4 linked regions of the Homo sapiens genome follow. The protein of the gene in region 4 interacts with the protein of the main gene of each other region in a biochemical or structural test. Each region holds a gene or a part of one and is shown on either strand. Other genes may lie near its edges. The genes, in order: TNRC6C, TRPV4, TNRC6A and AGO3.

Region 1 (8,162 bases), on a different chromosome or scaffold from region 4:
ACCAGCTGTGGGCTGGTATCTCAACGCTAACAGGCTTAGCGTCACAACAGTACACAGAATGAAAGAACGCTGTGTTCACCCTGTTGCCTCAAACCAGGTCTCTCTCTACTCCCAACTCTCAAGTGCAGTTTCAGGAGGGCAAGTGGGAAAACAGGGGGGAAAGGTTGTGGGAAAGACAAATAAAAAGTAAGAGAAACTAATGAGAACTTTTGTGAGTGTTCCTAAAGGCTGAATTTTTAAACTCACGTTCACTAATTTAAGATTTAGTTGGAAAATCACAAGTTAAAGAGAACAAACCATTTTCTGAAGACTTAAGATCTACCCAATCAAAATTCTGCCATCCAAGGCTAAATAGGCATGTGCATAAGCTATTTAAATAACTACATCTCGGGCCGGGCACGGTGGCTCACGCCTGTAATCCCAGCACTTTGGGAGGCCGAGGTGGGCGGATCACCTGAGGTCAGGAGATAAGAGACCATCCTGGCCAACATGGTGAAACCCTGTCTCTACTAAAAATACAAAAATTAGCTGGGTGTGGTGGCGGGCGCCTGTAGTCCCAGTTACTTGGGAGGCTGAGGCAGAAGAGTCGCTTGAACCCGGGAGGCGGAGGTTGCAGTGAGCTGACATCACGCTACCGCACTCTAGTCTGGGCGACAGAACAAGACTACGTCTCAAACAACAACAACAACCCACTACATCTCAGCCAGGCGCGGTGGCTGACGCCTGTAATCCCAGTGCTTTGGGAGGCCGAGGTGGGCGAATCACGAGGTCAGGAGTTTGAGACCAGCCTGGCCAACATGGTGAAACCCCATCTCTGCTAAAAATACAAAAAATTAGCTGGGCGTGGTGGCAGGCACCTGTAATCCCGCCTACTCAGGAGGCTGAGGGAGGAGAATCGCTTGAACCTGAGAGGCAGAGGTTGCAGTAGCTGAGACCATGCCACAGCACTCCAGCCTGGGCAACAGAGCGAGGCTCTGTCTCAAAATAAGAATAAGAATAAGAATAATAAGAATAATAACTACATCTCAAATTTTTATAAAGTAACCTTTAAAGGAGTACTGAAATTATGAGTAAACATAAATTGATTTCAAGAAAAAGAATACTGACAATCTCTTTTTAAAAATCCTCTTATTTCCAGAGAGTTTTCCCTAAAGGAGGGCGGGATATAAGTCTATCCAGAATAATGCTAACCAGACATTCTGGCTTGGCCAGAATAATCTCATTAGTCATAACACTCATTTTTCCAATGGGCTAGTATCTAAAGACCATCATCAAATCTGTGAAAGACAAGCCAGGAATTACCTTGTAATTGATCTATCATACCTACAATTTTGTTGTGCATGAGAAGCGTCACACATTGTTTTTTCATGATTGGGTCAGTGGCACTTATTGGCAGTGCCCAGAGGCCTCAGGAAAAGGAACTAGCCACTCCTTCAGGTACCCTACAGAAAACAGTAGTGCAGGGAGCCCCTATGATGACTGTTCCTCACCTGTCAGCTTCCCAATTCCCCTCAAATCTGCAGATACAGCCCCACGTACCAGGCTTACTAGTTGAAAACACAGTTGATCGTTATTCTAAAAGATTAAAAACCGAAGAAACATGTTCAATTATCAATCTTCTCTCCCCCCCCGCATGACTTGTGGAAGCAATATCTCTGAAGAAACAGATGATTGTTATCTAAATATCTTCAAAATACTATAGACGATGTAGGGATTACAAAGATGAACATGTTATTATCCCTGCTAATAAGTAACTCAAATCTTAAGAAATTATCATGATAATGAAGTTTTTTTTGCAAAGCATTAATCTGCAAGGAAATGTGCTGAAATTTAAAGTCTAAAGTTGATAGAAAAGAATAAATAACAATGCTCAATTAAATGCCACACTACATATACACAAAAGTCCAACAGTGGCTAAGATCCTCATTCATCACCTGACTGATAAAATAAAAAATATTTTTATCTGTTTTAAAGTTTCCCCACTCTACAGGAGTAAAAAAGAATCTATTATTCCTTAAGTTTAAGGAATCTCTTAAGTTTACCTAAAATTTAAAAATTCTAGTAACTTCAACACAATTACTAATGCTGCTATTCTATTTATGTAATGATTTGATCTTATGCTTCCTTGAAACATTAAAGATTTTTGTTTTCTCTTCTTTCCTGTCAACATTCCATATGCATAAAATTTACTATATACCTGGGACTGTTATATAAGATCTAGGTCAAGAATTTTTTTATGGGTATGGCCCTAAGAAAATCTGATTTCATTGAGAGTATCCACCATAATTAACAGCAGACGTCTATTATTACATGGCTCATCACATACTTGGATTTATGCTGTGAGTCAAATCTCTACTGCAGAACACAACCTCATACAATAAACTCGCCTAAAACTACTATCTTGTGTGTCATCTTTCCCCATCAGCATCTAAAAAGAATGTACTATGTGTATTTAACCAAATATCTTAATATTAGCTTCATTAATTTAAAGCCTCTGTGGCAGATTCTAGGAAGAGCAGTAAGTACCCTATGCCTCTTAGAACTCATTCTTTCCAACAACCCACGTCAATCATTTTGTATTATTTTATCCTGCTGATTCTTTGTAACAGCTTTTCAGTTTGACCCTACCAGTATGTAGGCATCACCTTGCACAGACAGCTACAACAGCCAGTTTTAACACCATACCTCTGCTCAAGGAAGATTCTAATCCAACACCTGATTCATGTCATGCCCACCAACAGCCACCAACGGTTCCTAAGGAGCCAACAACTAGAGGTTCCACCTGATAGAGCCCCTTCTAAACCTTATTGCCAACACAGAACCTCCATTTACAGCTAGGCCTCTGCACTCATCCAGTCAATAACTATATCCCGTCCCTACTATGTCTCAGCCATTATGTTACGCGCTTTACAAAATATTTCCAAACATGGCTTGCCCATTCGTCTCCTTGTAGAATATCCCTTTCATCCAACCAAGCTTTGCCAGCCTTTCAGAACTCATTTCAAGTGAAGTCTTGCCTAACCACTGCAGCCCACAGGCCCTCTCTGGGGATGACCAGGCACTCTTCCTTTCTGAATTTGTTAAAGTCAGTCCCACTGAACTAAAAAGTGGTATGAAGGGAAAACAATGTTCAATGGCCACATAAGTTTGGGAAATACTGGGCCAATAAAGGTAAACATATTTCTTTCACTGCTGGAGTTCTCAGAGCATCCAAAATTTTGACATGCGTCCTTAAGAGAGGAGATCCAGTATACAGCTATATAATGATCTATTACCTTAGGTTTTTGTCAACTTTTTAATATGTGTATGTGGCGTTCTTCACATGTATTGCTTTCTCTCTTTTTTTAACAACTTGTTTGGTGCCCATTTCTCTCACTATACTAGTAAGACAGCTCCAGGAGGGCAGGAAGAAGTTGATGTCCTTCCCCTGTGGCCGCTGCACAGGGAAGACATAAAGGTTTTGTGGAAGGAATGATGTAATCAGGCTCAGGCTTCAGAAGGCAGCACAGCGGAATGATAAAGAGCTCAAGCTCTGGCTTCCAAGGACCTAGACACATTTATTAAGGCTCTGATTTGGGGCAAATTATTCAACTTCCATCAGTTTCAGCTTCCATGTATAAAGTGAATATAATCACAGCTCCTAACTTATAAGCTGCTGAGGAGAAATGAATGAGATCATACACACAAAGTGCTCAGAAGGCAGTCAGTTAATATTGGCAGCTGGATAGCAGGACACAGAACAGAGGAAGAGACTCATTAAGCAGCTATTAAAATAATCCAAGCTTTTTCCATATGTGAGGGCTTTGAAGTGTATTGAGTTTAAATTCTGGCTTCATCTCCTATAAGCTATAGGATCTTGTGGAAATTACTCCCTTTGCTCATCTGTAAAATGGGAATGTTAAAAGCAACCACTTCACAGGAGTGTTGTGAGGATTAAATAAGATAAACTCATGTCCTTGGCACATAATCACATTGTAAATGCTCAGATTAGTTTTAAATGGAGATCTGGTTACCTAAGGATGCTTTCTAACCTCGTCCACTCCCACTTCACAATTCCCAATTGTCCTCAGTGACTCAAATGTACTTGTTCCCACAAATCCATCACCTTCTTCCCTTACTGTGCCTCCCTACCAAAAAAGACCTTGTTTAAGACATCAGCCATAGCCCCCTGAAGAACAAAGCCTATTAAATTCCCTCCCTACACTCTGGGCCCCTCACTCTGCACTTCATATTTCATATGGAGTATGAGAAAAAATACTTGTGCATCTCCCTCCTCCCCACTGTAATTTCTGAATAACCGTTGTCCACATCATCTCAACAACAGTTGGAAAGGTGACACCTGTGCCCGCGTTGCCATTTCCCAGTTTCAGATCTTAGTTTAATTCCCAGTTGCTATTTTCACTGAGATTTTCCCTGCTTCCTAAAAGAGTAATTAAAAAGAAATGATCTTTGGGAATAAAAAAGTAAACAATATCTTTGCCAGGCTCAAACCAAGCACTTGATTTTAGCTGTGAGAGATCTTATTCTTAATAAGCTAGAAGGCACACATAAAATGAATCAAACAAAGCACATATTCCCAATAACCACCTGGGCACCAACTTGCATCTGGTATTAGCCACGTCAAAAGACAGTCTGCACATTAGTAAAGGACTCAACCACAGACAAGAGTTATCCAACTGCTGAGAATAATTCAACTTGACACTGTGATACTATAGGTTTGTAGTTCAATCCTTCAGAGAAGGAAGTTATAAAGATACAATAGAGTATTAATTTCTAAAATGGTCTGAAGAAGAAAAACAGAGAGGGTCTTCAGAGTAAACCATTTGGATTTATACAAATAGATGCCAGTCACACTCTTCTTCATTTTTGTGCAAAAAAATTAAAAATTTGTTATGCCAAAAAGGTTCATGAGAAAGTGGAAACTGGGCCAAATTAGACCAATCCATCCCACAAAATATCTGGAAGATTCCAGATGACTCTTTGGGCCATGTGCACTGTGTGTGGCCCAGTGATCATATGGGTCTTAGGGCAGTGGTTCTCCAACAGAAAAGAAGTATTGCAACAAAGAGGCAAATAAAGAGGAAGATGGTGGGACAGACAACTCTTATTTCCTAGACACCCCTTATTTCCTAGAGCAAACATTTAAATCCACTGGCTTACAAGAGGAATATACTTAAGAAGCTATATTATTGCTCATCCTTAATCACTACTATATTTTAGAAAACCAAAGTTCCAATGCATAGCTGGAACTCAGAGAGACACAGAGAATATTAAGAGTTCAAAATAACATTGAGTGTTCCTTTCCCAAGACCATTACTTCTGTTGTGGTTTGCAGCCACAGAGGGCTCAGGAGAGTGCGAACAACTATCTGTGCTACAGCAGTGATGTTTTATGGCTGGATGCCCAGATTGTCTAGCTCTGCACACAGCTCTATAGTCTTTTGAAGGCTACAGAGGAGGAATGCATTCTTAACAAACAGCTCTCCATTCCTGCAATAGCTTCTTCATTCTCTGAAAACATCTAAAGCTAAGAAAAGAATTCATTTTTAGTAAAACTCCAAAAATGGAACAAACGATATGGATTTTCAGCATGTTTTAAACATGTAAAACCTTGTTATATATATCCCAGGTGGAGATTTTTTAAAATTACATAATTTACTTTTCATTAAATAAATTAACATTTCAAATGCACGATCTGTACAATAGGAAACTGTACCATTATTTTAATCGGGTTATTCAAACAAGTTCACTGGCTAAGATTATACATTTCTCAGTTTCAATTTCAGATATACACTTTCTGCACAAGGTTATATAGTTATTTCTGACAAGTAACCTTTACATTTTTAAGTAATTATATTCCTAAAAAGTTATGTATAAGCTGAAAATTTATAAATGGACTCCACTGCATTAAAGTCTATTTAAAGAAAGCTTATTGTATATCATTTTATAAAGAATGCTCTCCTCGTGACCACACAATTATTTAAAAACTCATTTGTATAAATTTGGATAGCCATAGACTGAGTAAAAGCAAGAAAACCTGTACAATCTACCCCCTACAAAATAGGAGCCACTTCTCACCTGATATTTTGCTGTCCCTACTCAAATCTATGACATCTTCAAACAAAATATTAAGATGTTAACTATCTAAAGTAACTAAAATCCAGTCACCTTCACTGGGACCAGTTGTCATGCAAGAGAGACCAAAGACTGTGTCACCAACACTTCAAAATATTTCCTTACTTCTCACCTAAAATATTTGAAGACCCTCTGAGATAGAGCTGGAGAAAAGGTAAAAACCCATGTCTTAAAATTATGAGAAAGAAGCCAAAACAAGTTCAACGGAAGATAACAAAAACAAAACAAACATAAAGTTACCTGGTTCTTCCCAGCTTATATAGACCCTTTCACGCTCAGTCTGTTCAGGACTCCGCCTCCTGCTCCCTCAACCTATCCTTCTGCCAGCTCCAAGGACGTCTATAAATCTGTTCCTGTCTCCTCCTCTCCATTTCTTGTGCCTTCTCCACCAGCTTCAGTTGCTCTTGGTAATCTTTGCTTGCTCTATCCCCAAATCTTAATTGTCCCATGTGTTTTACTTTGGTATACGGGACAGCCTAGAGTTCACAGCCAAACGATTTTCTTTCTTATAAAATCTTAAGTATCACCTTTGCACAATAAACCCTGACTGAAAGATAAACAGTCATCCAAAGCATAAGCATGCAATCGAATGCTCCAATTCCTATTGGGGAAGGCCAAAAAGACCCCCAAATAGTCTTTTAAATGGTTTTTCAATCTTAAAAGGTTGTTGGTGAACTTCTACGATGCCAAAGATATTCTATATACTCAAATCAAACAATTAACTTTCATCAGTAGTCTTTTTTAAAAAATGTCAAGTTAGCATCACTTTCCTGGGCCAAGCAAGACTAAGTTACAATCAAGACCTCATCCCCTTCAATTGGGGTTGGAGAGGTAATGTAAATACCTCATTCCCAGCCAGCACTGCAGGAACTGTGTCTTCCATTTCTTTCCAAACTGGAAACTCCCTTCATTAAGGAGAAAGGTTGTCCTACTCCAGCCCTGACCCTCCTCTGGCTTGGTTTTGGAAGTAAGCCAGATGACAGCATTTGGAAAAGCACAAATGTATCTCAGGAAAGCCAGCTGTTTAACAAAAAGGTGGCGGTAGCGGTGATGAAAAATACTGTATTTAGTTTCATATATCCTCTGTATGACTTAGTTATTTTTTAATCACCGAATGTCAAACGAAACAGTTCATTCCACTCTACCTTCACAATCAGCATTCTAAAGGCAACTATTTACTCCAAAGTTCCTAAGCCAACTAAATATAAATGTAAACCTGTTTCGAAATGATGTTAGTGTTAAGACATATGCTACTCGAAACCCACCCTCGCCCCCCGCAATAAACACGAAGGACGAAAATCTAAAACCAACACTTACATATACTCCAGGTTACTACCAGAATATTTAAATGGCAGAATCCGAAATGAAATTGTTAAGATTAAACCTTATGACAGACAGTCTCAGTATCAACCGTATTTAATTTCATACCTTAAAAGTAAAACCGGCCGAGCGTGGTGGCTCACGCCTGTAATCCCAGCACTTTGGGAGGCCGAGACAGGCGGATCACCTGAAGTCAGGAGTTCGAGACCAGCCTGGCCAACATGGCAAAACCCCGTCTCTACTAAAAATACAAAAATTAGCCGGGCGTGGCGGCGGGCACCTGTAATCCCTGCTACTCGGGAGGGTGAGGCAAGAGAATCGCTTGAACCCGGGAGGCGGAGGTTGCAGTGACCCGAGATCGTGCCATTGCACTCCAGCCTGGGCAACAAGAACGAAACTGTCTCAAAAAAAAAAAAAAAAAGTAAAACCGAGGTAAGGTCAGCAAGGTCTTTGTTTTGGACAAGAAGCACAGAAGAGTTACAAACAAGCTTTTAAAATCAGATCCTTATAATAAAAACGAGTGTGTGTGTGTGTTTACTATTACCGTTTTCTGAGCTATCAATTTCTCACGGCCTGACTATGCCTATGGTCAGGTCATGAGAAATCTGTATGAAAAACAGCTTCCAAGAATGTCTATTCTTATGAAAATAAATATTAAAAACTTTCTGTAGAAAAAAAACTTTCAGTATAGGTAAAGTTACAACTGTT
Region 2 (8,374 bases), on a different chromosome or scaffold from region 4:
ACATGCGGATGCAGTTTAAGCCCAGGCCTGTCTGCAGTTCAGGCTCTTTGTTTGTTTTGAGACAGGATCTCTTGCTCTGGACTGCAGTGGCACAATCGCAGTTCACTGCAACCTCTCACTCCTGGGCTTAAGCGATCCTCCCACCTCAGCCTCTCAAGTAGCTGGCACTACAGGTGCGTGCTACCACGTTCGGCTAATTTTTGTATTTTTTCTAGAGACAGAGTTTCACCATGTTGCCCAGGCTGGTCTCAAACTCACGGGCTCGACCGATCCACCTGCCTTGGCCTCCCAGAGTGTTGGGATTACAGGTGTGGGCCACTGCACCCGGCCAACTCAGGTTCCTATCTCTGGACTGCAGAGTAGCTCCCCCATGACCCCAGGCACCCCAATGAGGGTCCAGACAAATGGGGACGGGCCACCTTACAGGTGAAGGGATGGATTTGCAATCACACAAATGGGATTCAGGTCCCAGCTCTGCCCCTTCTCAGCTGAGAGAACCCAGGCAAGAGATTTCACCCTCTAGACCTCATTCTGCCCTCTGAAAAATAGAGACAAAAATAGTTTTGTATCCAAATGTGCTGAGGGTGCTTGACTCAGTGCTTGGCACACAGTAAGTGCTCAATAAAGGCTTGCCACCATCATAATAGTTGTTAATGCAACCCAGGGTTGGCTAAAGCCAGACAGAACCTTGTACCCAGAGTTCATAACAGCAGCCACTTATCTCAAGAGATCGGAATTAATCTTTAACAGGTGAATTCTGCTCCAAATGGGCGATGTGGAGCATTCCAGAGGGCCCACTGGCATGAAATAAATGTTATCTTGGCTCCCCAGACCCTATCTGTGACAACAAGAGGAGCTGTTACCTGGGTCCCTATAATTTGGAGAACGGACTGGAGTGTCTTTCCCAAAGTCAAATGGGGGAAACTGAGGCAGACAGCAGGGTCAAGGGCCTGCATGGAGTAGAGACACCCACTTCATGTAGACCCCATCCCCCTAGGAACAGAGGAAGGAACTCAAAGGACTTTGACCATCTCAAAAGTATTTGTTCAGACAACCATGCCATAGATACTGACTGAGCACCTACTATGTGCCAGGCACATGAGGCTCAGTCTTGTGTGTTTCCTTCCCTCCTACATCTCCTTCCAGCTGCCGCTCTCCACTCAGAGCTTGGATGACTTCCCCAGCCTTGGGGCCAGCCTCTCTGTCTGAGCTCCTCCAATCTTTCCCACTCTGCAGCCACAGGGACCTTTCTAGAACAGACAAACAACCGTGTCACTCCCAGGCAGGACTTCTGGGCCTCTGGGTCTGATTTAGCTCCTGCCTGTCTGATCCCTCACCCTTTCCAGTCACGTCACAAACTCCAGACAAACAGAACTATTTCTCTGCTCTATAAACCCCAGGTGTAGCCACCTGGTAACAGGTAAAAGTCATATCTCTGCTAGTGCCATTCTCTTTGCCTGAATACTCTTTCCTCTACTTCTGCATTTATTCTTTAAGGTGCGGCTTAAACACTACCTTGACCAAGCCCTCGTGGGTCCTTCCTGGGCCAGTCCTCCTACCCTACGGCATTCTCCCCTGACCCCATCCATTCCACAGCATACATTTACTAAGCGTCGGCCATCCATGCACACCTTGCTAGATGCTCACAAGTCAGGTGTGGGAGCTCCTCCCCGGGGGGCCACAAGGGAAAATCCTTCTTGCCTTCACACGCCTCAGGCTACAGCGAAGCTGGGATTGGAAGCATCTCACTGCTCCAGTGCCCAGCCCAGAGCTGGCACAGGTGAGCTTGCAGAGAGCATTTGCTGGAGGAGGGAGTAAGTGGCAGAGGCCCAGTTGGCACCAGATAAGGCAGGAGGAACCTCCACAGCCCCTTCCCCAGATATAAGGTATCTGGGTTTCACCTGGGGAATCCCAGCCATCCTCACCGGAGCTCATGTGAAACATCCCTCCTGGGGGCATCACACCCTTTTTGTTCAGGCAACCATTCCCTGGTTACCTCCATTTCAAAACAGCCCCACCTTGATCTTACAAAGTGAACCGCCCTGAACTATGACTGCCATTTGCCATTTGTGTCTGGGACCCCTTCCGCGTGCAATTCACCAATCAAGGTGGGTGTCCAGGCTTTCTGGTTCCCATCATTCTTCAAACAGAATGAACTAGAGAAATGTGGAAATGGCCAATTGACTTTTTTCACCCTCTTTGTTAAGAAAATGTTTGGGGCAACGACAACTGGTTAAACATTGATGGCAGCCAACAGTGGCTGTGCCAGGTTCCTGGAAGGTCATCGGTCCTCACGACAGCCCTGGGGGCTTGCCCTCAGGCACCCCAGTATTACAGAGGAGAGAACACAAAGGCTCAGACAGCTAAGGGACCAGGCCAAGGTCACACAGCAGGGGACTGCAGAGCACACCCCGGGCCCCACACAGGCCCGCTCTTAGCCCCGCAGATAACCCAGGCCTGACCTTTCTACCCTTGTTCCCCCAAAAGCCCACCTCGTCACCCTCCTCAGGAGCCCGGGGAGTCCCGACTTACCCTCTGCCCTTGCTCCGGAGCCAAAGTGGCAAAGCTTAAATCCTCAAGCGGTTCTTAGCATCCCAGAACAAAGCTCCCACAGGGTATCTGCCTAACATTTCAGGGGTTCACGGCCCCTCTGCCCCCAGCAGAGGCTCTTGTTTTAGAAGCTGAGCCAGAACAGCCACAGGGCCCACCTCTGCCCTGCCACTTCCCAAGCACCCCGGGGGCACCAGGCCCTGTGTGCAGAGCTGGCCCCAGGACAGGCCACCTGGTGTGGTGGGAAGGGCTTTGGGGCTGGATAGTCCCTGGGTTTAAATCCCAATTGTCTAGATCCCCGACCTAAGCCTCAGTTTCCCCATCTGCAAAACAGAGAGGACAGACAGAGGGAACAGCTGGGGCAGGCTGGAGCAGTGGGTGGCTCGATGAATGCATCTGTGGTTGGTGTTTCCAGGCAAGCGGGGAGTGTGGGAGTCTCTCTCTCCCCCACCCCCACCCCCGCTACCCACCCCCAGGAGCCACCCGCCCCCGGGACGTCCTGAGAGTCCAGGGCAGAACTAGAGGTTAAAGATTTTCATGCCTCTTGGAGGAAACAGCCGTCTCTCCGGGACTCAGTAACCAAGAAGAAGCCTTTGGAAGCTCCAGACTCCAAATTCCCTCCGACATGCTCAGGGGCCAAGGGCAAACCTTAGGTCCCCCGAAATCCCTCTTCCAAGTCTCCTAAGGTGGGCTGCAAGGCTCCGGGCCTTTGGTTCCCTGGCTTGGGGTCTCAGGGAACCGAACCGCCCTCCCCCCAGACCTGCTACCCCAGGCCCCACGTTGGTGCCCATTTCACAGGTGATAAAACCGAGACCCAAAGAGCCGGTGTCCGGCCCAAGGGCACTTAGCTGAGAGGCTGGCGCCTGCGGAACCTGGTGCCTTCCGTCTCCCGCGCCCCTGGCCCGCATTTTGGAGCCTCGGGACCCCCCGGAGCCGGACGGGCCACGGAGATGTCCCCAGGGGCGCGAGGGGACCTCGGCTGAGCCGCCCCTCCCGGGCCCGGGCCCCACTTACCTCCGGGACGGCTGGGCGCCGGCGGCCGGGAGATCCGCGCTTCCTGAATCCCGGCCGGCCCGCCCGGCGCCCGTCCGCCCGCGGGTCCCTCCTCCGCCGGCTCAGGTTCCAGCCGCGCGCCGCCCCCGGCCAGCTCCCCGCCCACCCGCCGGCTCGCGGACCCCGCCGAGCGCAGGCCCTAGAAGGGGCGGCCCCTACTCGCACCCCGCCCGCCCAGCGAGGGCCTCCCCTGCGGGGGAGGTGCAGGGCCAGGGCCTCAGTTTCCTCGCCTGGAAAATGGGTGTCGCGATCCCCGGATAGAGCGGCAGACGGTCTTTGGAGAGGGCTCTAGTTGGAATCGGCTCCGATTCGATCTTGCTCCGTGACTTCGGGCCGCCCTGGGACTGTGTCCTAGTCTCTAAATGGGCGTCCCGGCCCAGTCCTCCACGTGTTTGCTCATTCATTCATTCAGCAGACAATTTCCTCCGAGGCGTTGAAGGAGGTCCCTACCCTCGGGTATGGCCCATAGAGATGGTTCAGGGGTAAATAAATGTGAGCTGCTCTCCTTGGTCTTCACCCAGTGCTTACTGCGAAGCCTGCCTCGGAGTAGGCCATCAATGTTTTGTTGCTGTTGTTTTTGAGACAGGGTCTCACTCTGTTGCCCAGGCTGGAGTGCGGTGGCGTGATCAGGAATCACTGCAGCCTCAACCACCAGCGTTCAAGCAATCCTCCCGTATCAGCCTCCCTAGTAACTGAGACCACAGACGCCTACCACCATGCTTGGCTAATTTTATTTAAATTTTTTGCAGAGATAGGGTCTCACTATGTTGCCTAGGCTGGTCTCAAACTCCAGGCTCAAGCGATCTACCCACCTCGGCCTCCCAAAGTGCTGGGATTAGAGGTCTGAGTCACCGTGCCTGGCTCAATGCGTTTTTGTTTATTTTTTTTATTATTATTATTATTTTTGATACATGTTCTCCCTTTGTCACCCAGGTTGAAGTGCAGTGGCATGATCACGGCTCACTACAGCCTCAAACTCCTGGCCTCAAGAGATCCTCCCACCTCAGCCTCCTGAGCAGCTGGGAGTACAGGCATGCGCCACCACACCCCACTAATTTTTATTTTTTTGTAGAAGGGGGGGTGGGGGAGGGCAGCCGGTCTACAACTCCTGGCCTCAAGTGATCCTCCCACTTCAGTCTCCCAAAGCACTGAGAGTATAGGCATGAGCCACCACACCTACCCATGTATTTTCTTTTATCAGATAACAAAGGTGGGCCCCAACACATAGCCATACCCTCTACCCAGCACTGAGTCCACTTGAATACCTCCACAGGATGGGCAGCTCACTTCCTCCAGGGTGGTTGGAAAGCCTAGCAGGCCCACAGCTTGGCTCTGTGACTCTCTAACCCAGCAGCCCTATGCAAGTCCCTTCACCTTTGTGCCTCAGTGCCTCTACATCCCCCTGTAGAGTGGGGCATACAAAAGTCCTCACCTCACAGTCGCAGTGAAGATGCTGGGAGCATCCAGGCTGTGCAGAGCCCTTTTTTTTTTTTTTTTGAGACAGAGTCTTACTCTGTCGCCCAGGCTGGAGTTCAGGGGTGTGATCTCAGCTCACTGCAACCTCTGCCTCCTGAGTTCAAGCGATTCTCCTGCCTCAGCCTCCTGGGGGCTGGGATTACAGGCATGCGCCACCACGCCAGGCTAATTTTTTGTATTTTTAGTAGAGACAGGGTTTCACCATGTTGGCCAGGCTGGTCTTGAACCCCTGACCTCAGTTGATCCACCCACTTTGGCCTCCCAAAGTGCTGGGATTACAGGTGTGAGCCGCCGTGCCCGGCCCAGAGCCATGCCATTTTCATCATTAGTGTTTTCACTAAATTGAGCTGACTCAGGGACTGTGGGGTAGCTCCTTCCTCCTCAGCTTGAAAATAGCAGCATCTCTCCTGAGGTCCAACAGCTGGAAAGTGAAATTTTAGAATTGCTGGGTGGGGAGGCGAAAGAGAGAGAGAGAGAGTGTGTGTGTGTGTGTACCCCTGAATAGGAGTGATGTGTTCACCTCCAGCGTGAAACATTTACAAAGAAACAAACCCTAATAATTAACTCACTGAGCACAGAAGCCTAGGGGATGAGAGGGAGAACAGGCTGTGAGGTAGGGTTTGCTCTACCCATTTTGCAAGTGGGAAACTGAGGCTTGGAGAGGAGTATGGCCTCTCCAAAAGCTGCTCCCTCCATGGTGGGGGTTGGGGTGGGAAAGAGAACCCTCTGAGGGTCCGGAGTAAACAGGCAGATGTCTGGCAGTGGAGAGGAAGGTAAACACAGGGCCCCTCACACCTCCCTGACAGACAGCTATCTGCTGGGGGCCCTCAGGGCTGGGGCTGGGGCTGGGCCAGGTTGAGAGTGGAGGAGTGAGTCTGGGACCCATTTCTGCAGAAAGGCCTGTCTCAATTTAAAGAAAATGGCAAGGGTGATTCCAGCCATAAGGCAGCTGATGTTGGGGACTGGAACTGGGGGAGATGGGGCCAGGGATGGCGACCTCCTCTTCTCTAAGCTCAGAGGGAAGGGGCCTGAGCGCTCAGCATCATCATCACTAACCCAGCTCTTTCCTGATCCCCATTTCACAGATGGGGCAACTGAGGCCCCCATGTAGGGAAGTGACTCATCTTGGGCTAAGCAGCTGGAGCTTGGCCTCTGCACCAGACACTGGGGTTCAAATCCTGCCCTGCCGCTGATGGGAGAAGGAGCTGTGGTGGGAGCTGTGGGCAAGAGCCTCCCTCTCTCTCTGTGCCTCAGTTTCCTCACCTAAAAAATGGGTACCAGTGTCCATGAAGCAAGGGAACGTGTTCATGACCACAGGTCTAGCACCTGGCACTTAGTAGGTGCTTTAAAAATACTGGTTGATGGGTCAGGCGAAGTGGCTCATGCCTGTAATCCCAGCACTTTGGGAGGCTGAAGTGGGCAGATCAACTGAGGTCAGGAGTTCGAGACCAGCCTGGCCAACATGATGAAACCCCGTCTCCACTAAAAATACAAAAATTAGTTGGGCATGGTGGTGGGCACCTGTAATCCCAGCTACCTGGGAGGCTGAGACAGAATTGCTTGAACCTGGGAGAGGGAGGTTGCAGTGAGCAGAGATCGTGCCACTGCACTCCAGCCTGGGCAACAGAGAGCGACTCCATCTCAAAAAAAAAAAAAGTCCTGGTTGATGGAGCTGGGGGAGAGGAGAATGGGAGGTTGCTGTTTGTTGGGCGTAGGGTTTCAGTTTTGCAAGATGCAAAGAGTTCTGGAGATGAACGAGGGTCACACAACAATATGAATATACTTTTTAAGTTTAATTTTTAATCTTTTTTTTTTTATTTTTAGAGAGAGACAGGGTATTGCTCTGTAGCCCAGGCTGTAGTGCAGTTGCCTGCTCATAGCTCACTGCAGCCTCAAATTCCTAGGTTCAAGCGATCCTCCTGCCTCAGCCTCCTGAATAGCTGGGACTATAGGTGTGTGTCACCAAGCCTGGCTTTTTAAATTTTATTTTTTGTACAGGTGAGGTCTCGCTATGCTGCCCAAGCTGGTCTCAAACTCCCGTGCTCAAGTGATCCTCATAACCTGGCCTCTCAAAACATTGGGATTACAGGCATGAGCCACTGTGCCTAGCCAGAAATAATGTTTCCTCTTAGGGAAGGAAAAACTTTCAAGGCCCTCAGCATTGGCTGTGAGTCATGTGGCAGCCACATGTGGGGCGCAGCCTTGCTCTCCACGTAGCTCCTGGACTGCCCCAGGTGGACTCAGCTACCTCCCCTAAGAAAGGTTCCTGGGCAGCAGCCAAGGGTCTGCATTTACCAAGTGCTTACTGTATGCCAGGTCCAGTGCCAGATGCTGGGGAGAGATTGGTGAGCCAGACAGGTCAGGATCTCAGGGACTTTATACCCAGGGTACCCAGTTATAAAAACAAGACACGTGCACCTCACTTTACAGTTGGCACAGTCCTGATCCTGCCACTAACTCAGTTCATCTTTTGACAGCCTGGAAAGGAGGAATTCTTCCACCATTTTATAGATAATGACACAAAGAGGCCACTTGTCTGAGATCATCCCACAACTGGTAAGATTTGAACCCAAGCCCAGCAGACTCTACAGTGTAGCATGACCAGCAGGAATATTTTCCTGGCCAGGTGCGGCGGCACACACCTGTAATCATAGCATTTGGGGAGGCTAAGGCAGGAGAATCACTTGAGCCCTGGAGGTCAAGGCTGCAGTGAGCTGTGTTCAGGCAGCTACACTCCAGCCTGAGCAACAAAGTGAGACCCTGTCTAGGAAAAAAAGAAAAAAAGAATATGATCTCAAAAAGACAGACCATAAGTGTGGATGAGGAAGTGGAGAAGCTGGAATCTTCGCACACTGCTGGTGGGAATGTGTAATGGAGTGGCTGCTATGGAAAACGGTCTGGCAGTTCCTCCAAATATTAAATCTAGAGTTACTGCCAGGCACGGTGGCTCCCGCCTGTAATCCCAACACTTTGGGAGGTCAAGGCGGAAGGATCACTTGAGGCCAGGAGTTTGAGACCAGCCTGGCCAACACGGTGAAACCTCATCTCTAATTAAAAAAAAAAATACAAAAATTAGCCGGGCATGATGGTGGGCACCTGCAATCCCAACTACTCAGGAGGTTGAGGCACAAGAATTGCTTAAGCCCAGGAGGCAGAGGCTGCAGTGAGCTGAGATTGTGCCACTGCACTCCAGCCTGGGCAACAGAGTGAGATCCTGTCTCAAAAAAAAAAAAAAAATCTGGAGTTCCCATATGACCCAGCAATTCCACCCCAGAAATATAGCCAAGAGAAATGA
Region 3 (8,162 bases), on a different chromosome or scaffold from region 4:
CTTATTACAACAAAGCTGAAGTAATCAAGACAGTGTGGAAGTGGCATAATGATGAACACATAGTATCAACAGAATAGAATTGAGAGTCCAGAAATAATTCTTCATTTTATGATCAAGTGACCTTCAACAGGGTGCCAAGATGAAAGTCTTTTCAACAAATGAAGCTGGAATTACTGGATAGTTACATAACAAGAATGACATTGGAGCCCTCATGCCATATGCAAAACTTAACTCAAAATGAATTACAGAACTAAACATTAAGAACTAAAACTATAAAATTATTAGAATACAAGTAAATCTTTGTGACCTTGGATTTGTTGCCAACAACACAAGTAACAGAAAAAAATACTGGTAAACTAGATTTACAAAATTTTAAATTTTTGTGCTCAAGGGACTTCATCAAGAAAGTGAAAAGAGGCTGCATGCGGTGGCTCATGCCTGTAATCCTAGCACTTTGGGAGGCAGAGGCGGGTGGATCATTTGAGGTCAGGAGTTCAAGGCTGGCCTGGCCAACATGGTGAAATTCTGTCTCTATTAAAAATACAAAAATTAGTTGGGCATAGTAGTGGGTGCCTGTAATCCCAGCTACTCAGGAGGCTGAGGGAGGAGAAACGCTTGAACCTGGCAGGTGGAGTTTGCAGTGAGCTGAGATCATGCCACTGCACTCCAGCCTGGGCGACAGAGCAAGACTCTGTCTCAAAAAAAAAAAAAAAAAAGTGAAAGGAAAAGCCACAAAATAGGAAAAAATACCTGTAAATCATATATCTAATAAGGGACTTGTATCTAAGCTATATAAAGACCTTTTTCAATGACAAAAAATATCACCTAATTTAAAGATGGGAGAAGAATCTGAATGGCCACTTCTCAGATCAGATATACGAATGGCCAATAAGGACATGAAAAGATGCTAATCATCATTAGCCATTAGGAAAATGTAAATCAAAACCATAATGAGATACCACTTTACATCTATTAGGATGGCTAAAATCAGAAACAAGAACCCTAACAAATGCTGGCAATGGAAAGGATGTGGAGAACCTAGTGCCTCCATACATTGCTGATGAGAATGTAGAACTGTGCAGCTGCTTTGCAAACAGTCGGGCAGTTCCTCAAAAAGTTAAACAGAGCCTGAGCAACACAGTGAAACCCCATCTCTACAAAATATAGAAAAAATTAGCCAGGCGTGGTGGCATGCACCTGCAGTCCCAGCTACCTGGGAGGCAGTGGTGAGAGGATGGCTTGAGCCTGGAAGGTGGGAGGTTGCAGTGAGCTGAGATTGCACCACTGAACGTCAGCCTGGGCAACAGAGGGAGTCCGTCTCAAAAACAAAACAAAACAACACAAACAAAAGTTAAACAAAGTTACCATATAACCCAGCAATTCCACCCCTAGGTATATAACCAATAGAATTGAAAATATATGTCCACACAAACATTTGTACATGAATGTTCATAGCAATATTATTCATAATAGCCCCAAAGTTAGAACAGCCCAAATGCCCATTAACTGATGAACGGACAAACAAAATGGGCAATAGCCATACAATGAAATTTATTTGCCCATAAAAAGGAATAAAGGATATATGCGACATGATGGACGAACCTTGAAAACACTACACTAAATAAGACAAGTCACGTACAAAAGTATCATATAGTATGATTCCACTTAAACGAAAATAGGTAAGTCCATAGAGTTATAATAGAAAGTAGATTAGTGGTTGCCAGAGGCTGGGTGGAAGGGACAAATGGGGAGTGGCTGCTATTATGGGGTTTTTGGGTGAAGGGGTGAAAATTCTAGAATTAGACAGTGGTGCTGATTGCACAACTCTGTGAATATACTAAAAACCATTAAATCATACACTTTGTGGACTTTAAAAGGGTGAATTTTATCATATGGGAATTTTATCTGAATAAAGCTGTTATTTAAAAGTTGAGAGAAACTGAAAGGTACATTCAGAGAAGGAAGAGTTAGGGACAGGGCAAAAGGTGGAAGGGACAGTGCTAAATTGATAAGCTGAGCAAAAAACAAGAGTCTGGGCTTTAATTCCAGAGTCACTGGGAAGGAGCCAACAAAGGTTTCTAAGAAATAGTGACTGACAGGCCTCAGAAACGTGGCTCGAGGACGATTAACCTGCAGCAGTGTAGAGAATGCACATTTTATGACCCTATCTTTGTAAGATTTTCACTATATGCCTCACATTGCAAAGAGATTCACAAGTGGAATAACATATAAAACATATTTCTCTTACATCAGTTATACAGTCAATTATCAAGGAATAAATGATATTTAAAAGGACATTTAAAATCAGCACACACTTAACTACCATTCTCTCCCGTCTGTGCACACATGTTTTAGGGAAACTTCAAAAGAATGGGAGAAAGAAGGGACCAAAGTCAACAAAACACAGACGTCATAACTCTAAAAATATTCAATATTATTGCAGCAAACTGCTCAATAAGTGCTCCCTGACTGAAAACCACTAATAAGAACAGCAAAACAACTGAGTTGGCTTAATCTTGTTTGTTATTATACAAAATCCAATCAGTCACTGTTTGCAGAAAATATCTTGTAAGGTTCAAAGTATAAAATTCTTCAACCAGGTTTCAATCTGTTTTGAACATTCCATTTGAAACGGGAAGTCAGCTGAGTCATCATCACATAATATACTACTGCTAAAAATTCAAAATGCTTTTCCCTAGTTACAAGAGTGGAAATGCTAGGATTTCTCCTTCATAGCCAACTCAAACACACAGAGTATGCAAATCATTTTTAAAATAAGACATCTTAAATAGGAAATTTAAACTATATTTATTTTCATGGGTGGCTTTTTTTTAAGATGGAAAGAAGCTATGCCTTAGTCGAATATTACTTCCTTTTGAATCTCAAACATCTTCCTCTTATTGATACTATTCAGCTCCTCTGACAACCTCCTCATAAAGAAGCAGTTTCTTAATCTTTGAGGAGTAATGACCCTTTGAGATCTAATGAGCACTAAAGACCATATCTGCTTTTGTTGTGGGGTTTTATTTTTATTTTTATTATTTTATTTTGGCATACATTCAATTTTGCAAACCACTTCATAACACCTGTGGTCCCTCTGTGGCATCGGGATGAGAACCCTTGGTCTGGTGGCACCGTGCCACTCTAATTTCAATGGGGCATTCTTTTAAGAAAGCGTATTACAAGCCCAGCCCCAATGTTTCATTTTCCTACCAGGGTTATCAGTTCATCACTGGTCAAAGCTGAAAACAAGCAACTTTTATGTCCCACAGTAAGGGAGCTACCTTTGGCATAAATCTTCATAAAAGCAGTAATCATTATGGCTGATCGATTTAAATACAAAGACCTGTAATTACTGTAACCTCAAATATTTAAAATTACATCTCGGTTTAAACCAATTGTTTGGCATTTCCTAAAATGAAAGAAACACCAAGTCAGTGTAGAAGTAAGAATATTGGATAACCTTTCGGTTAATTTACTTCAAAATGCTGTGGGGAGGGAATACTGAAGACAAACACATCATCACCTATGGGATACTCCTGCCAAAAAGGGTCAACCTGAACCTAATCATACAGACAAGACCCAAAAAATGCAAATTTCAGTCTGCAAAAACAACTAGACTGGACTATTTCAAAATGTCATTGTCAAGAGAGAAGCAGAAAAGGGCAGGAAAATGCTCCTAATGTAAGAGAAACTTCAGACACAACTAAATGCAACCCAGGATACAGCAATTGAGTGAAAGAACAAATACAACTTTAAAAAAAATTTTGAGAAAATTGGGAAAATCTGAATAGGGACCAGACAGAATTGTAAAGTTAAACTTCCTGTGGGTGATCATTTGATTGCTGTCAGGTAGAATGCCCTTATTCTGTGAGATACCTACTGCCATACTTTGGTGTGCAATGTCACGATAGAACAAATGTGGCAAAATATTAATAATCACTAAAACTAGGTAAAGAGATACAGGTATTAGTTGCAACATTTTTCCAATTTTGCTTAAGGTTAGAATGATTGATTATTTATTTGAGACAGAGTTTTGCTTTTGTGCCCAGGCTAGGCTGGAGTGCAATGGCGCAATTTCGGCTCACTGCAACCCTCGCCTCCCAGGTTCAAGCGATTCTCCTCCCTCACCCTCACAAGTAGCTGGGATTACAGGCATGTGCCACCACACCAGGCTAATTTTGGTATTTTTAGTAAAGATGGGGTTTCACCATGTTGGTCAGGCTGGTGTTGAACTCCTGACCTCCAGTGATCTGCCCACCTCGGCCTCCCAAAGTGCTGGGATTACAGGCATGAGCCACTGTGCCCGGCCAATTTTTTAAAATTTTAAAATGAGATAGGGATTTCTGTTTTTTCAGTGAGAGATTTATCATGCATCAGCCTGAACAGAATACATATAACGCATACCATTTTAGTCTTTCCAATCATGGGCAATACTTTTGCAGTTGTCATTAAAATTGTAAATATGTTTTGCAATTTATACTTTCAGACATTTCAGATGCCAAAAATCAAAAGAGCTTACAGAATGGTATTCTTTTGATGTTTATATTCAAATTTTCCACAGAGGGTTGTTACACATTTTTAAATTAAGTTTACAGATTGTGATTAATTTATCCTATCAAGTGATTTACCACCTAATTGCCAAATTAAGCTGGAAAAAAAGCATATTGGGTTGGTACATTAAAAATGAGCAAAAACCACAATTAACTTTCGCACCAACCTATAGCAATATGCATGTGTTGGCCTGCAAACCGTATCACAGCAAAGCAAAAGAAAAGCTTAACAAAATCAGATTTTCTTTCTTTTTTTTCAGACAAAGGTTGATGAATTGCATGAGTGGGATCCACCTTAGCTACGGAGACCTAATGCCTTGGGGTTTTACTCCTGCTGTCCTAGTCATTTCTTTTCTTTCTTTCGAAACAGAGTTTCACTCTGTTGCCCAGGCTGGAGCGCAGTGGCACAATCTCGGCTCACTGCAACCTCCACCTCCCAGGTTCAGATTCTCCTGCCTCAGCCTCCCAAGTAGCTGGGATTACAGGCACATGCCATCACACCCAGCTAATTTTTGTACTTTTAGTAGAGACGGGGTCTCACCATGTTGGCCAAGCTGGTCTTGAATTCCTGACCTCAAATGATCCACGTGCCTCAGTCTCCCAAAGTGCTGGGATTACCCGTGTGAGCCACTGCACCTGGCCAGTCCTAGTCATTTCTAATATAGCATTTGTCCCACGCAAAAGCATCTCAGATAAGTGTCCCAGTTTAGATGCAACATTATATGGTATATAGCACTTTTAACAACTTTTGTTATATGATGACATACAGTTGGTTTATGGGGGGACAAATCAGTATAACGTGAAGTTAACTTCTACTTTAAACAAAACACATTTAGTACATGATAGTAAAGTCATCACTAGAATGAACATAACATATTGAGATAACTGCTTTTACTCTTTTAGAATAAAAAAGGAGAAACCAAAATTATATTTTATCTATTGTGCAATATAAAATAAAATACTGCACATGGGAGGAATACTAGAATTAGAGTCAAAAGGCCTGTTTAAATCCCAGCTGGGTCACTTGACAGAGAATATAAACTTGCGTAAGTTACTGAATCTGTTTCAACCACAGCTTTCTCACTTGAGAAATGAAGAAGTCAGAATGCTGGCTGATCTCTATCTAAAGTCATAGTCCAGCTCTAAATATTCAATGATTCTATGATTCTGGCCTCCAAAATATTTTTTCAGACTAGACCAGCTGAGTTCTACTGGTCTAGACCAGTACTGGTAGATTTTTTTTTTACAACTGCAAAATGTAACTTAGCATCTTCTCTCCCCAAACTCCTATTTCTGCTCTGACTTGTTCTGTTCAGAGGTTGGGTCAAACTCTCATTCACCCATGATGAAGATTCCTATGTATTTTTGACTCCTCTGACACCTAATCAGCTGTCAAATCCCAGATTCTTAACTTCCTCAGTATCTTATACACTCATCTTTTTTTTCCTTTCTCTCTCTTTTTGCTTTGAGACAGGGTTGCACTCTGTTTCCCAGGCTGGAATGCAGTGGCACAAACTCAGCTCACTGAAGCCTCAAACTGCTGGGCTCAAGCAAACCTCCCACCTCAGCCTCCCAAGTAGCTGGGACTACAGGTGCACACCACCACACCCAGCTAATTTTTTAAAATTCTTTTGTAGAGGCAGAGTCTTATCATGTTGCACAGGCTGGTCTCAAACTCCTGGGCTCAATCCTCCTGCCTTGGCCTCCCAAAGTGCTGGGATTACAGGCGTTAGCCACTGGGTCCAGCCTCACTCACCTCTTTTTGCCACCACTTCAATTCAGGCCTCCATCGCTTCTTGCCTAGATCGCTAGTTTTCTCCCATAAATACACCTGGTTAGTAATCCCAGACCAGAAGATTATTCTATCACATCAGTACGCAACAAAAAGCATGCAATAGCTCCCATACCTAAAAATTTATGCACAAGTTCCTCAACCTGACATTCAAGAACCTCTATATCTGGCCTTAACCAGTTTGCTACAAATACCTTATATAACCTGAACTACCCACTGCAATATCAAAATCTCCTGTACTTTCTGGATTTTTGTGTCCTTACTTCTGTTGTTGTTCTTACAATGCCCTTTTATCTGCCTTTCAAAACTGATTCCATTCTTCAAAGTTCAGTTCTAATGGTAATCGCCCTCATGTAGATATTATGGCTCCCATGATACTAACATAATGTGACAATTTTAATGGCCAACTGTGAATTTTAAAAGACAGTTTACCTATGATAGTAAACTAAATTTATTATTTGTGCCAATGTTGTTTAACTGGCACTGGCTACCAGGCACACTGTCTTGAGGATTTGCAGCTTAGCAGAGGAAAAGGAGAATGGCAACACATCTTTGACATTCAGAAACCAGGGCTTCCAAATTGAGGATCTACATAATAGGGTCTAGGCTTCCATGTTATTAAAAGATTTTTTTTTCTTTTTTCAGACAGAGTTTCACTCTGTCAAGTAGGCTGGAGTGCAGTGGCACAATCTCGGCTCTCCGCTCCCAGGGTTCAAGTAATTCTCCTGACTCAGCCTCCCGGGTAGCTGGGAATACAGGCGCATGCCACCACGCCCAACTAATTTTTGTATTTTTAGTAAAAATGAGGTTTCACTATGTTGGCCAGGCTGGTCTCGAACTCCTGACCTCAAGCAATCCACCTGCCTTGGCCTCCCAAAGTGCTGGGATTATAGGTGTGAGCCACAGCACTCGACCAAAAGATGTTTAAATTAACTCAACATCTAAAAGTTTGGAGGCTTTCACGTTACAATTCCTAATGAAGATCTAGAGCAGTGGTTCTCAGCCAGGGTCGATTCTGCGCCACTCCCAGGGACATCTAGCAATATCTGGAAGCATTGGTGATTGTCACAACTGGACGGGGAGTGCTACTGCGGATGCTGAACATCCTGTGATGCACAGAACAACCCTCAAAATAATAAATTATCTGGTCCAAAATGTCAAGTGCCCAGATGAAAAAACTGATCTAGAAGTATTGCATGCATCTGTGGGTCCCGCCTACCAAAAGAAATTTTCAAATTTTGCAAGTTCGAAGCCTAAAAAGTTACTCCAATTACCAGTGATATGGTCTCCTCCAAGTTACTTAACCTCTTTATACATCAAATTCTCCATCTGTAAAACGGAGATAACAATACTACCTACCTCACAGGGTTTTTCAAGGATCAGATGAGTCCATGTAAAATCTTAGGAAAAGTGTGCCAGGCACATAGTAAGCAATCAATAAATTTAACTACTTACATTCTTCCCTGGCTTAGTGCCCAGTCCCACAGTTGAAATATCGAAAATGCTCAAAAAATGGTTACTCAATGAATACAATGCCTTGATTTCCTGGAGAGAGCACTATGGGTAAAGACAGATACATTCTTTTTTGTGAAAAAGGAAACACAGCTAGAGATGGAGATGAAGGAAGCATCTGCCCACCTAATCACCTCTCTCCTTCCTCAGAACACTTTTAACCTGCAAGAAATGCTCCCCTCTCATTGGATCCTTAGTACACACTGCCTTACAATCTCTTTGATATTTGTTTTTCCTTTCATGCCTTCTGACCGACTGAATATTCTCAAGCACATGAATGGGATGGTATCTTTTGATTCCTACGT
Region 4 (8,162 bases):
GTTATAAGTTCATGCTTTGAGGTCTCTTCTCCAAAGACATAACAATATTAGACACAGAAAGAGAAATTAATATAGCTAGTTTCAAAACCAAGATTAACTTCTCTGAGGACCAGATACAGAACACAAATGCAGCTCAATAAGACTGTATAGATTCAGGCCAAGAGGGAAAATTCTGATTTTAAAATTTATGAAGCGTAACAGTTCTAAGATGAAGCTAAAGTCTTAAGTATGGCTTCTGAGATAGGTTGCTAAAGTGGAAGAGATAGGAAGAAAAATCAGTGGTTTGAATTGGTCCTTGTTTTTTCTTATTTCTTTTCTCTTATTCTCTTATACACATCTTTTTGTCTTTTTCTTTCCTTACTAATCTTTAAGTCTACCAACAACACAAAGAATCTAATTGTTAAATGTATAGTTCAGCCTAGTTATAGGAAAATAGTTTTTTACCCTATACTAGGTGTTTTATTCTGTTCTTCAACGGGAAGTACTATTCTTTTTAATTTTTTAAAAAGATGGGGTAGGCTGGGTGCGGTGGCTCATGCCTGTAATCCCAGCACTTTGGGAGGCCAACGCAGACGGATCACGAGGTCAAGATATCAAGACCATCCTGGCCAACATGGTGAAACCCCATCTCTACTAAAAATACAAAAATTAGCTGGGGGTGGTGGTGCACACCTGTAGTCCCAGCTACTCTGGAGGCTGAGGCAGGAGAATCGCTTGAACCCAGGAGGTGCAGGTTGCAGTGAGCCGAGATTGTGCCACTGCACTCCAGGCTGATGACAGAGCAAGACTGCGTCTCAAAAAAAAAAAAAAAAAAAAAAAAGAGAGAAAGAGAGAGAGATGGGGTCTTGCTATTTTGCCCAGGCTGGCCTTAAATTCCTGGGCACAAGTGATCCTCCTGCCTCAGCTTCCTGAGTAGCTGGGACTATAGGCACATGCCGTCATACCCAACTCAGAATTACTATTTTTGATTACTTTCAAAGTAAACAGTGATGAACAGGTTACAGTAAAATAAAAATGTAAATGAAATTCATGTAATTTTGATTATCATTTATTTTTATTTATTTATTTATTTATTTTACTTTTTCTAACCTAGGTTGTAGGTAGTATGGATGCACACCCAAGCAGATACTGTGCCACAGTAAGAGTTCAGAGACCCCGACAGGAGATCATCCAGGACTTGGCCTCCATGGTCCGGGAACTTCTTATTCAATTTTATAAGTCAACTCGGTTCAAGCCTACTCGTATCATCTTTTATCGGGATGGTGTTTCAGAGGGGCAGTTTAGGCAGGTTGGTTACCTAGAATCTCATCAGACTATGGTGAAATCAGATATTGTGTTTATAATATGGTGTCTAGTTCTAGAGTTAAAAACCTTGTTAGAGTTCCCCAAGTCAAAACTTGGTGTTTTGTTAGATTGTCTTTTTGAAAATGTTCACTACGAATGTGTATGCCTTGCTTGCTAAGACCATGTTCTAATAATCGTTAAAATGGAATCTATTAGCTATAGAGTGGTGAAATTAAGGAATCCTGAGATTAAATCATTATCCTACTTTGAAGTATATAAAAACAAATAGCTGACTATATTGAATCTTTCCATTTCATATTCTCTAGGTATTATATTATGAACTACTAGCAATTCGAGAAGCCTGCATCAGTTTGGAGAAAGACTATCAACCTGGAATAACCTACATTGTAGTTCAGAAGAGACATCACACTCGATTATTTTGTGCTGATAGGACAGAAAGGGTAATCTCACCTCTGTTGTAATACTGTTATAAACCAAGCTTATCCAACATAGTTCATAGAGCATTCAACAAGGGCCCTCTGCCAACAGCAGGATTTCCAATATATAGTAGCAAATTTCAACAATTACATTATGAGTATAGAAGCATCAAAATAGATTATTTTTAACTTTCTAGAATTTCTAGTCACACTCCAAATATTCAAAATCTCATTCTACTTTTTTGTTGTGAAGAAACTCATGGTTTTAAAATTATTCTTCTATTCATATTTTCCTAAAATCTTCAGAAAAAACAGTACATTCTCTTTTTAAAATATCTCATACAAATTAGTTTTTTAAAAAAGTGGAAATTCAGGCCAGGCACAGTGGCTCACACCTGTAATTCCAGCACCTTGGGAGGCCAAGGCAGGCAGATCACTTGAGGTCAGGAGTTCAAGACCAGCCTGGCCAACACGGTGAAACCCTGTCTCTACTAAAAATACAAAAAATAGCCAGGTGTGGTGGCGCACATCTGTAATCCCAGCTACTCGGGAGACTGAGGCAGGAGAATCACTTGAACCCAGGAGGCAGAGGTTGCAGTGAGCCGAGATGGTGCCACTGTACTCCAGCCTGGGCAAGAGAGCAAAACTCCATCTCAAAAAAAAAAAAAAAAAAAAAAGTGGAAATTTATACAAACTAACTTTTAGCCATGTTTCCTTTAAAGTTCACAGAATTATTTTATGCATTTTATAATGTGAATGTATATTTTTTATAATTAGGAAGGAAAGAGAGGTATAAATACCTAAGGAAATATGTTTTCTTTTTTTTTTTTTTTTTTTTTTTTGAGACGGAGTCTCACTCTGTCGCCCAGGTTGGAGTGCGGTGGCGCGATCTCAGCTCGCTGCAAGCTCCGCCTCCCAGGTTCACGCCATTCTTCTGCCTCAGCCTCCTGAGTAGCTGGGACTACAGGCGCCTGCCACCATGCCCGGCTAATTTTTTGTATTTTTAGTAGAGACAGGGTTTCACCGTGTTAGCCAGGACGGTCTCGATCTCCTCACTTTGTGATCCGCCTGCCTCGGCCTGCCAAAGTGCTGGGATTACAGGTGTGAGCCACTGCGCCCGGCCAGAAATATGTTTTCTTATCTGTGTGCAGCAAGACAGCAGTCTTACTGTCATTTTCAGTGCTCTGATCACATCTGCCCCCATCCTGTAAATCTTGGAGCAGAGAAATCTAATGATACCAAGTGTTGTTTCCCCTTGAGAAAGGGATTTGATAGAAAGGACTAAGAGAGGGGTGTTTTTCTTTGCCATACATACTCACTGTATTCCTTTGGGCAAGCAACTTAACATCTCTGTGTCTGTTTATTTCTTAGCAAGATTGGATAATATTAATATCTACCTTATTTGGGTTGTCGGGAGAATTAAATAAAATACGTAATGCACTTAGAACAGGGCTTGGCCCACACTAAGTACTCAGTAAAGATTGGCTAGCTCTCATTAGTAGAGTGATGAGAACAAAAAAAAATTAATAAATAAAGTTTGGCTAGCTGCAGAGTGGTGGTGATAGTGGTAGAATAGAGAAGAAGAAATAATAATAGATATTGTTCTAAGTATTGCTTATAAATTTCATCAATTTAATCCTCACCAACAAGATTATGAGATAGTTGTATTTTTTTGTTTTTGTTTTTTTTGACAGTTTTGCTCTGTTGCCCAGGCTGGAGTGCAGTGGCATGACTTTGGCTCACTGCAGCCCCCACCTCCTGGGTTCAAGTGATTGTCAGGCCTCAGCCTCCTGAGTAGCTGGGATTACAGGCATGTGCCACCACACCCGGCTAATTTTTGTAGTCTTATTAGAGGCAGGATTTCACCATGTTGGCCAGGCTGGTCACAAACTCCTGGTTTCAAATGATCCGCCCACCTCGGCCTCCCAAAGTGCTAGGATTATAGGTGTGAGCCATCACACCCAGCCTACAACTTTTTGTATATATTAATTAGAAGATTTACGTGTTGCTAATTTATTAGAGTTAAGTATTTTTTTAGGACCAGGCATAATTTAGTAGATTATGAACTGTTTTGTTTTGTGCTTGGTAAAGTGAAGCTGGTTGGTCCACACCACTATAATTCAAGGTACTACCTTATAACAGTCACTCACGTGGCAAAAATATTATCTGAGTCAGTAAAATAGTTTCTGATTTGCTAGCCTTGTAAACCTAGACTTACAGTTAATGATTTTAAATGTGTTGGGATAAGGCGGTGGAGGTGGGTATAATAAACATTTTTAAGTGTTTTATAAGGAGCTTGTATCATCAAGAATTTTGGGTCATTTCAGTTATATTATATCCACTCAGAGAAAATCATGGTGTCCTCTTACAAGATGTTGAAACTGATAGTATGAAATAAAAGGAATAAGGCCTTTGCAATTATTTCATTGTTTGAATCCCAGTTCTGCCCTTTATTGTGTGCTATTGAGCAAATTATTTTGTATTCCTGAGCCTTTATTTCCCTAAACAAATGGAAATAATCCCTAACTTGCAGGATTGTTACCAGGTTTTAGAAATAATGTGTTCAAAGTGCCTGATCCATAAATGGTTAACAAATGGTGTGACTGTTGTTGATCTTGTCAGCATTCTCTCTCTCTAAACATCTAGTTTTCTCCAAGGTAAATGCTGATCTTCATAAATCACACGTTCAAGAATACCTACTATGCACAGGTACCATAAATTGGAGCACTTTAAGTTAATTTAAAAAAAATTTTTTTTAGTGTCTTCCACCCATAGTGGGGTCAACTATCAGCTAAGCAGTAGTAGAGACTGTATTAGGTTTTGTTGTGTATCAGCGCTCACTTTCAGCAACATGTAAGAATAGGAACTAGGACCTGCGTAGTCTGCTCTGAATGACTGCTTAAGTCATATTTCAAGGTGAAAGTAGTGAAATGTAGGATCAGCCTATGTATTCATACATTTTTTAAAGTGCTTTCAGATATATTTTTACCTTTTTCTTGTTTGTTTAAACTTTAACCAAACAAATCTAGGTTGGAAGAAGTGGCAATATCCCAGCTGGAACAACAGTTGATACAGACATTACACACCCATATGAGTTCGATTTTTACCTCTGTAGCCATGCTGGAATACAGGTAAGCCTACACTTTGGGTAAAATATTTTAATTCAAGAACTGTCATTCTTACGTGTATTTTTTAAATCTCAGAAAAAGGATAAAGAAATACTCTTTGCATTCCAAATTGTTTCCACATGAAATTAGATGAAACTTTCAGTAAACAAATGTCTTCCCTTTCCTTACCTTGAGAGGGGCTTAGGAACTTATTTTTATGAAAATACCAGAATATAAGTAGTTTAATAGAATGAATCTCCCTAAAACAGGCCCTTAATTTCACTAAAATGTTAAAAAATGTGAAAGTACCTGATTGTTCCTTTAGCATATGCATCTTTAAAAAAAAAAGAGAGAGAGAGAAAGAGAAAGCACTATTTTGCTCAGGCTAGACTAGAACTCTTGGGCTCAAGCAGTCCTCCCACCTCAGCCTCCCAAGTAGTTGGGACAACAGGCCTCCACACTCAGCTAATGACGATAACATTTTATAGAAAACTTTGACATGTACTAGTAGTATTAAGCATGTGAAAGAGTTTAATTGGGCTGGGCATGGTGGCTCACGCCTATAATTCCAACACTTTGGGAGGCTGAGATGGGCAGATTGCTTGAGTTCAGGAGTTTGAGACCAGCCTGGGCAACATAGAGAAACCCCGTCTCTACAAAAAATATAAAAATTAGCCAGGTGTGGTAGCACGTGCCTGTAGTCTCAGCTATTCAGGAGGCTGTCGTGGGAGGATCACTTGAGCGCGGAGGCAGAGGGAGGTTGCCATGAGCCAAAATCATGCCACTGCACTCCAGGCTAGGTGACGGAGCCAGACCTTGTCTCAAAAAATAAAAAAAAATTTAATTGTAGAATTACAGCTTTAGTTTTTTTTTGTTGTTGTTGTTGTTTTGTTTTGTTTGTTTGTTTGTTTGTTTTTGAGACAGAGTCTCACTCTGTTGCCCAGGCTGGAGTACAGTGGCATGATCTCGGCTCACTGCAAGCTCCGCCTCCCAGGTTCAAGTGACTCTCATGCCTCAGCCTCCCTAGTAGCTGGGATTACAGACTGAGATTACTGGGTGCCACCACACCCAGTAATTTTTTTATTTTTATTTTTTCTAGTAGAGACAGGGTTTCACCATGTTGGCCAGGCTGGTCTCAAACTCCTGACCTCAAGTAATCCGCCCACCTTGGCCTCCCAAAGTGCGGGGATTACAGGCTTGAGCCACTGCACCTGGCCTTAAGTTTCAGTTAAATAATTTAAAAAGTTTTTCTTATTCTTTCCAGAAAACCTTTTCATTAATGTGTTAGCTTTACTTGGTGGAACATAAGCTTTAAATCAGTGCATCTCAAACTTTCCAACAACAAAAAGTAAACTGACATTCCCAGGATGTCTGAGAGTCTATAACCCAAAACTATTTTAGGTTACTTGCCATTATTGATTAAGATAGAAATTTCCAGATGTACCTTACCATACAGCTCTGTATCTTATAGCTTTATATGTCCCACATATACGAACCTGTTTCAGATTCATGGCTTTAAATTATTGTCTGACTCATTTATCCATGTTCTTATATCAGCTCCTCTTTACAATTAATGTTGTACATTTTCAGGGTTGGTGGTTAATGGGAGGTCCAGAGGAAGTGATGTCAGCAAGATGGCTGACTAGAAGCCCCTAGTGCTTGCTCCCCTCACAAAGAAAGCCAGAAAAACAGATAAACAACTACATTTTTTTTTTTTAACGGAGTCTCACTCTGTCACCCAGGCTGGAGTACAGTAGTGTGATCTTGGCTCACTGCAACCTCTGTCTCCCAGGTTCAAGCAATTCTCCTGCCTCAGCCTCCCAAGTAGCTGGGACTACAGGCACCCACCACCATGCCGAGCTAATTTTTGCATTTTTAGTAGAGATGGGATTTCACCATGATGGCCAGGCTGGTGTCGAACTCCTGACCTCAGGCAATCCGCCCACCTCAGCCTACCAAAGTGCTGGGATTACAGACATGAGCCACCATGTCCGACCTTTTTTTTTTTTGAGATGGAGTTTTGCTTTTGTCGCCCACGCTAGAGTGTAATGGCGTGATCCCAGGCTAGAGTGTAATGGCGTGATCTCAGCTCACTGCAATCTCCACCTCCCAGGTTCAAGCGATTCTTCTGCCTCAGCCTCCGGAGTAGCTGGAATTATAGGCTTCTGCCACCACACGCGGCTAATTTTTATATTTTTAGTAGAGATGAGGTTTCACCATGTTGGCCAGGATGGTCTTGAACTCCTGACCTCCGGCGATCCACTTGCCTCAGCCTCTCAAAGTGCTGGGATTGTAGGCATGAATCACTGCACTGGGCCAAACAACTATATTTTAATGAAAATAACTGAGGGAGAGCCCTGGAGTGCATCAGAGGAGTAACAGAAACCCTGGTGAGCACAGAAACTCGGGATGACCACACAGAGAACAGAAAGAAACACTGAGCCTCCACTACTCCATCTCCAAATCAGGATCAGCTGGGAACCAGGAGGAACTTCTCCCTGCAGTGAACAGATAAGCAAGAGGATCCCAGCAATCCCCATCAACACCTTGGACACCTACACTGGGGTCCCCAGCACTGTTCTTAGGCACTAATCCCATCTTGGGGAGTTGCCTGGAGTCCACATAAGTGTACCCTCCCAACCCGAGAAAAGGAGCTGATACTGTGCTCCACCCACTGTGGTCCAAGCAGCTACTGCACTACTCCATCTTGGAAGTGGAACTATAGCTGGGATATGTCTTGCTCCAGGGGCAAGTAGCCATGACTCCTCTTTATTGTTAAGGCTATGCTATCACCAAATTACTCCAGCCCAGTGGCCTGACAGCCCTGTCGAGCTGCAAGCACCTGTTACACCTTGTGCCTTGGCCATTTAAAGAGATCATACCTCGGCCAGGTGCGGTGGCTCACACCTGTAATCCCAGCACTTCGGGAGGCCGAGGCGGGCATATCACCTGAGGTCAGGAGTTTGAGAACAGCCTGGCCAACATGGTGGAACCCTGTCTCTACTAAAACTACAAAACAAATTAGTTGGACGTCATGGCGCGCGCCTGTAGTCCCAGCTACTCCAGCCTGGGCAACAGAGTGAGACTCAGTCTCTATTTAAAAAAAAAAAAAAAAAAAAAAAAAAAAAAAAGAGGTCATACCTCTCCAGTGCCTAAATTGAAGGAGTACATTGCATCTCAATGTACTAAGCAGTGCCTTAGTCATCCAGAGCAGTCACACACTCCAGTACCTAAGCTGAAGCAGTGCCCTGCATATCAGGGAAACCATGTCTGGGCCACCCAGAACAGGCATAGCCCCATGCCTGAGCTGAACTGGCACTGGGGAATTGGTGCC

Evidence for each region.
Region 1: the proteins of AGO3 (region 4) and TNRC6C form a complex in vitro, tested with the Homo sapiens proteins (one study listed by BioGRID).
Region 2: the proteins of AGO3 (region 4) and TRPV4 interact in a test that uses a peptide from one of them, tested with the Homo sapiens proteins (one study listed by BioGRID).
Region 3: the proteins of AGO3 (region 4) and TNRC6A form a complex in vitro, tested with the Homo sapiens proteins (one study listed by BioGRID).

Annotation. Positions count from the first base shown.
Region 1 is NC_000017.11:77,960,871-77,969,032, reverse strand, and holds part of TNRC6C (trinucleotide repeat-containing gene 6C protein), read right to left. Parts: intron 1-8,162. UniProt on the Homo sapiens protein: Plays a role in RNA-mediated gene silencing by micro-RNAs (miRNAs). Required for miRNA-dependent translational repression of complementary mRNAs by argonaute family proteins.
Region 2 is NC_000012.12:109,829,786-109,838,159, forward strand, and holds the start of TRPV4 (transient receptor potential cation channel subfamily V member 4), read right to left. Parts: upstream 3,614-8,374; 5' UTR 3,565-3,613; exon of another isoform or gene 3,563-3,564; intron 1-3,562. UniProt on the Homo sapiens protein: Non-selective calcium permeant cation channel involved in osmotic sensitivity and mechanosensitivity. Activation by exposure to hypotonicity within the physiological range exhibits an outward rectification.
Region 3 is NC_000016.10:24,732,033-24,740,194, reverse strand, and holds part of TNRC6A (trinucleotide repeat-containing gene 6A protein), read right to left. Parts: intron 1-8,162.
Region 4 is NC_000001.11:36,038,697-36,046,858, forward strand, and holds part of AGO3 (protein argonaute-3), read left to right. Parts: intron 1-1,093; coding exon 1,094-1,288; intron 1,289-1,610; coding exon 1,611-1,745; intron 1,746-4,750; coding exon 4,751-4,852; intron 4,853-8,162.